Linked DNA regions of Homo sapiens: region 2 is linked to region 1. Evidence: fine-mapped expression QTL. A gene starts in region 1. The other region holds a variant in brackets. All regions are shown on one strand. Distances are between the middles of the regions.

What was found. PIP is the estimated chance that this variant, and not a neighbour inherited with it, causes the effect.
Region 2: its variant is fine-mapped to the expression of LAMP1 in lung (GTEx, PIP above 0.99). The same link has a PIP of 0.9 or more in T cells, blood mononuclear cells, macrophages, monocytes, monocytes after LPS and monocytes after Pam3CSK4.

The regions. Positions count from the first base shown.
Region 1 is chr13:113,295,917-113,298,824 of GRCh38, forward strand. LAMP1 (lysosomal associated membrane protein 1) reads left to right here and starts at 1,323. Exons shown (of 9, transcript NM_005561.4): 1 at 1,323-1,579. The coding sequence starts at 1,519. RefSeq lists a silencer at 1,454-1,733 and an enhancer at 1,964-2,143.
Region 2 is chr13:113,271,139-113,274,046 of GRCh38, forward strand. No RefSeq gene overlaps it. Among named protein-coding and RNA genes, the nearest start is that of MIR8075, 9.7 kb to the left of the region's middle. RefSeq lists an enhancer at 2,844-2,908. The variant G/T (reference allele first, on the strand shown) is at 1,755.

The DNA of each region.
Region 1 (2,908 bases):
CAGCAAGGTGGGGTCTATCAAAATGCCAGTGTTGAATTGGTCAAATCCCGCCCTTTTTAAGGTCACAGTCCTCTGGTGAGGACTGATAGTGAGTGCCTGGTCCTGTCTTTATCTGGCTGAGTGCTGTCTCTATTAACTAGGTGCACATCCAGTCCCCGTTGCTATGATGCCTTTTGAAATGTAAGATTAAATCTTTTTCTAAGATGTAGGTACTTATGCGACGGGTGCTTTATACAAAGCAGTAGCGTAGGGGCCTTAATTAAATAGTATTTTAACAAAAGGCCATAAATCCTATATGATGACAAGCCAAAAAACAGAGCATCTTCAGACTTCTAAAATGCAGGAGCCAGGCGCCGTGGCTCAGGGCTGTAATCTCAGCACTTTGGGAGGCCGAGGCGGGTGGATTGCTTGAGGTCAGGAGTTCGAGACCAGCCTGGCCAACTGGTGAAACCCCGTCTCTACTCAACATACAAAATCAGCCGGGCGTGGTGGCGCACGCCTGTAATCCCAGCTACTTGGGAGGCTGAGGCAAGAGAATCGCTTGAACCCGGGAGGCGGAGGTTACAGCGAGCCGAGATCGCGCCACTGCACTCCAGCCTGGGCGACAGAGCGAGACTCCGTCTCAAAAAAAAAAACAAAGTGCTCGACAGGAACTTTCTGTAAGCCAAAGAGTATCGCCATCGCACCTTCACCTTCACCTTGGGCAGCCTGGTGCCGTCTTCCCTCAGCCCGCGATTAACGAGCGGAAGGCCGCACTGACCCATTTCAGATCCCTTATTTCCTTCCTAAAACCACTCAAGAGTTTGGGCACAGTGGCCTCCCTGTGTGAGGAACTTGCTTCCCACTCACCAAAAGACAAACCCTTCGCCCATCCCTGGCCGCGCACCCGGCCGGTCACCCGCGCTGCCACCCACACCACCCTCCTGTCCATAAAGAGCCCGCGTTTGGGACGCCTCGCAGGCTGAAGGGAGGCCTGGGCGTCCGCGATCCGTCTGCCCTTTCTCCCCTCGCGGGCTTCCTCTTTCCTCACTTTCTCCCGCCACTACTCTTCCTCTTCCTTTTCCGCGAACCCAGCCCACTTCCCGTTTCAGGACCTCGGCTCGGCCCCAGTCCCCCGGACCAGGCCGGGTCACGTGGGTCCAGGGTCACGTGCCGCTGCGGGTCACGTGCCGCTGCGGGTCACGTGTCGGCCTGCATCACGCGTGAGGGGGCGCGCGGTGCTGGAAGCTGCCGCACCTGCGGGGAGCCGAGCCGCCGGCGCTCGACGCGCGCGCTCTCGCGAGACCCGCGGGATCACGTGACGCCCGGGCGCGGCGCAGCTCACGTGACAAGCGCTGCCGGCCGCGGTGTCTTCTTCGTGCCGGCGTCGCAGTGGCCGGGCCTCTTGCGTCTGGTAACGCCGCTGTCTCTAACGCCAGCCCTTGGCGCCCGCGCCCCGCCACCGCAGCGCCCGGCAGTCCGCGGCCCAACCGCCGCCCGCGCCCCCGCTCCCCGCACCGTACCCGGCCGCCTCGCGCCATGGCGGCCCCCGGCAGCGCCCGGCGACCCCTGCTGCTGCTACTGCTGTTGCTGCTGCTCGGTGAGGGGGTCGAGGCGGGGCCTGGGAGCGGCGGGACCGGGCGGAGCCGAGGTCCCTGGGTCTTGAGGGCGGGGGACTGCCGGGTCGTTGTCCCGCGGGTCGCCCCGCACCCACTGCTCCTGGTCCCGGCCGGCTCTGCCCGCGGGCGGGTGTTTCTCTCGGGGTCGTAGGGTCGGAGCGGAGCTCAATGGCAGGTGCTTGGGGGACCAGGAGGTCTCATCCCAGGACCTGGCTCCTCTAAGGTCTGTCTCACTGAACTCAGTTTTTCTGTGGTGGTGAGTGCGAAAGGGAACTTCCGATGGCTTGCTCGGCGGTCTGGTGCTTTCAGGTCGTTAAGTTTCCTGGCAAGTTGAGGCGGTGAGATCTAGACGAGGCTGCGCCGCCGAAGGTGGCAGGGACGTCTGTGGTCTCAGCTCCCGGGTGGGTGACCTAGATCAAGCTCTTCCCAACATGGATTTCACCCAGGACAGGGAGAAGCCGGTGCGAGCATTCCCCACCTTTGTACTTGAACCTTTCTCCTCTTTCAGCGGTGTGGAGGAGATGCGAGTGTATTTATGTTATTGTGAATTCACATGTATGTTAAAATAATTTTTAAAGTTATCTTTGGGATTTCACAAGATTCCGTAGTAGACAAGATGAGGGAAAGCTGGCCTCAGACTCACGGTGGCAATGTTCATGTCTAGTAAGTAGTTTAAAGAGCGCCGTTCCTGTAGGCCGAAATGCGGGACCAGGGAACACGTGGGGAAGCACCCTTCTCTTCTGTCAGTTTATAGAGCTCAGATGGGCAGTAGGTGCTCAATATTGTATTGACTAGTGAATTTCGTTCTCATTTATTGTCTTAATAAGAGGATGTGTGCTGTCTCTTTAAGACAGTCCGGATTGCCCCCCGCCAACACTATTCTTTCACCTCCTCCCCCCGCCGCCCTCCCCCGTAATATGAGAAGATTATCTTAAATGCCAGGATCTGAAAGGTGATGTAGAATCAAGCTGGGGGAGTGTGTGTGAGTTAAGTAGATATAGAAATACACTCCTGTACACATCTGCCTTGACTTCTTTAAATCCCTCAGTCCCATCCAGCTGTAAAACTCTGTTACTGTGAGTGAATGGATCTTGGCTTCCCTTTTTTGTTTTGCCTGTTGTGTAAAATGAATTCTTTGAACTGCCTGAATAGCCACAGAGATGAACTTATTCCAATAGTAAGCCTGAAGCCTTGCTCAGCTCCTGCGACAGGGTCAGGTGTAGTTAATGAAAGGAGTTGCAGAAACAAGTTTTGTCATGTCACAGCAACTGCATTGTTCTTTGTTACAGATGCTCACAAGCCTCATAACT
Region 2 (2,908 bases), 25 kb before region 1:
TAATCCCAGCACTTTGGGAGGCCGAGGCAGGCGGATCATGAGGTCAGGAGATTGAGACCATCCTGGCTAACATAGTTAAACCCCATCTCTACTAAAAATACAAATAATAATAATAATACAATGAATCATTTGCCTCTTTTTTTTTAAGAGACGAGGTCTCACTGTGTTTCCCAGGCCAGAGTAGAGTGCCCTGGCCATTCCCAGGCACAATTCGATGCACCCCTACTTCCGGCCACATCATTTGGCTTTTGAGCCCCTGCATAGCTGTGATCCTGGAACCCATTTTCTCTGCATTCCTGTGTAGTTCCACTCCTTGGATCTCAGTCTTCTCTTTTTCTTGTCTTCTGGTTTTATTAAGTAGATTCTTTTTTTTTTTTTTTTTTTGAGACAGTCTCACTCTGTTGCCCAGGCTGGAGAGTGCAGTGGCACGATCTCAGCTCACTACAATCTCTGCTTCTTGGGTTCAAGCGATTCTCCTGCCTCAGCTTCCCAAGTAACTGGGATTACAGGTACACCACCACGCCCAGCTAATTTTTGTATTTTCAGTAGACATGGGGTGTTGCCATTTAGCCAGGCTGGTCTCAAACTCCTAACCTGCCTCAGCCTCCTGAGTAGCTGGGATTACAGGCACACGCCACCACGCCCAGCTAATTTTTGTATTTTCAGTAGAGAAAAAGCCAGGCTGGTCTCGAACTTCTGACCTCAGGTGATCCACCCACCTCGGCCTCCCAAAGTGCTGATTATAGGCGTGAGCCACTGTGCCGGGCCTCATTAGGTAGATTCTTAAATGATCTTCTCAGAAAGAATGCCTGGGAGACAAATTTCCTGAATCCTGGCTGGACTGTTTTTATTTTACACTTGTGTTTGATTGTTGGTCTACATAAAAACTCTAGGCTCAAAATCACTTTCCCTCAGAACTTTGAAGGGATTGCACTGCCATAGTCTTCTATTTTCTAGCTCTAAAGTCTGATGCCATTTTGTTAACTAACCTGTAGTTCTTTCATGTCACTTTTGGAATCTTCTGTTCCTGGACTTTTGGTATCTCACAAGAGTGTCTCGGTGTGTGTCCACTTTCATTTGGCCTCTGCCAGCCACCCACTGAGCCTTCAGACTGGAAGACTCCGGACTTCTGTTCCAGGAAGTGTTCTTTTTTGACATTCTACATTGCCTCTTCCCCTTCAACTTCTTTGCTGTCACTTTCCTTAGCACTAATCTTTCTAAGTAAACCAACTGGAAGGTCTAATGAGAAGAAGGGCTGGCCTCACCCCTCCCCACTCATAGTTCACTGTCCATCTTTGTTTCTGGTTAGCTTTTCTCTTGGTGGCCTCTATTATCAGATTATTGTTTCTTGGTTTTCTTTTTAATAAAAGATTGTTTTATGTTTTTATATTATTTCTTATTTTTCTTTTTAATAAAAAATTGTTTTTATTTTATTTCTAGAATATCTTCTTGAACCTCAAACTGTCCTCAATGGGTTAGCAGGAATTACACGCCGGGTTCTGGGCAGAAATGGAGTCATAACTAAGCATGAATCAGGCTGCACTTTGGCCCACTTCCTTGTAACTGGAAGTCTTGTAGCCCTGGATACTGATCATTTGCACCCCCATTATTCTCATAGATAGGACCACTGACGTTAGAACCATAAGGCTTTAAACATTGCTTAATATGTTTTTCAGATCCTCAATTCCAGCAGAACAGCTGACATCAACCAGTCAAAGGCTCCCACAGGGCGCTGAGGCGGCATGAGAATGCAG[G/T]TTCTTCATCCCCCCATCCCATGATTTTAGCCTGCACTCTTCAACCCATCAGCAACTCCCACACCTCGGCCACTCCGAAACCCTTAAAATCCCCAGCCCCAAACTCCTCTGAGAGGCGCGTTCAAGGCTTCCTCTGTCTCTTGTTCAGTTCCCCTCTGGGTGTTAAGCTCCGTCTCTGCTGCAATCCCCAGTGTCTCAGTGTACTGACTTCCTGCACATCAGGCAAATGATGTTAGGATTAAAATTACACACCAGTGGGGCGCGGTGGCTCAAGCCTATAATCCCAGCCCTTTGGGAGGCCAAGGTGGGCAGATTGTTTGAGCCTAGGAGCTCAAGACCAGCCTGGGCAACATAGTGAAAACCCATCTCTACAAAAAAATATAAAAATTAGCCAGGTGTGGTGGCACATGCCTATACTCCTGGCTGCTCAGAAGGCAGAGGTGGGAGGATTGCTTGAGCCCAGGAAGTCAAGGCTGCAGTGAGCCATGATGGCACCACTGCACTCCAGCCTGGGCAACAGCGCTAGATGCCGTCAAGAAAAAAATTGAACTAGTGCCTCAGAGAGTTGTCAATTTTTTTTCTTTAAGACAGGTCTCAAGCTCAAGCACGTGTGTTGTGATCTGGGCCCCCATTCGTCAGGCTTCTGAAGTCGTGTTTTTAGGCACAAGCCTGTCCCCAAGTCTATAGCATCTGGTGCACAGTGCTCAGTAAACACTGAGGAGTGAATGAAGCAGGGCCAGTGGAAGGAACAAAGACCAGCAAGATAAGAATGGGGAGAAGTACGAGTGTGACAGAACAAAAGAAGGGAGTTTTAAGGTATGGTGAGAATCAGAAACAGACCATCACGGTGGCATCTCGGGCCATTCAGTTTGTGTGCTGGGCCCGACGGGTAGTGGGTGCGGCGAGATGTAGCTGGAGGCAAGGCAGAGGCCAGGGAGAGCTGCTCTCGGGTAATGAGAATTGAGCAAGCATCAAACTGAGCAAGCAAGAGAGAAAAGGGGAGAATCTGAGCATACGGAAAGGAGAAATAACTGCGGGCAGGTTTCCCAAACAGCAGGGGAAACCACATCCCCGCGCAGCGTGCTCCTCCCAGGGAACAGAACAGGGAAACCACATCCCCGCGCAGTGTGCTCCCCCGGCAGAGGTCCTAAGGA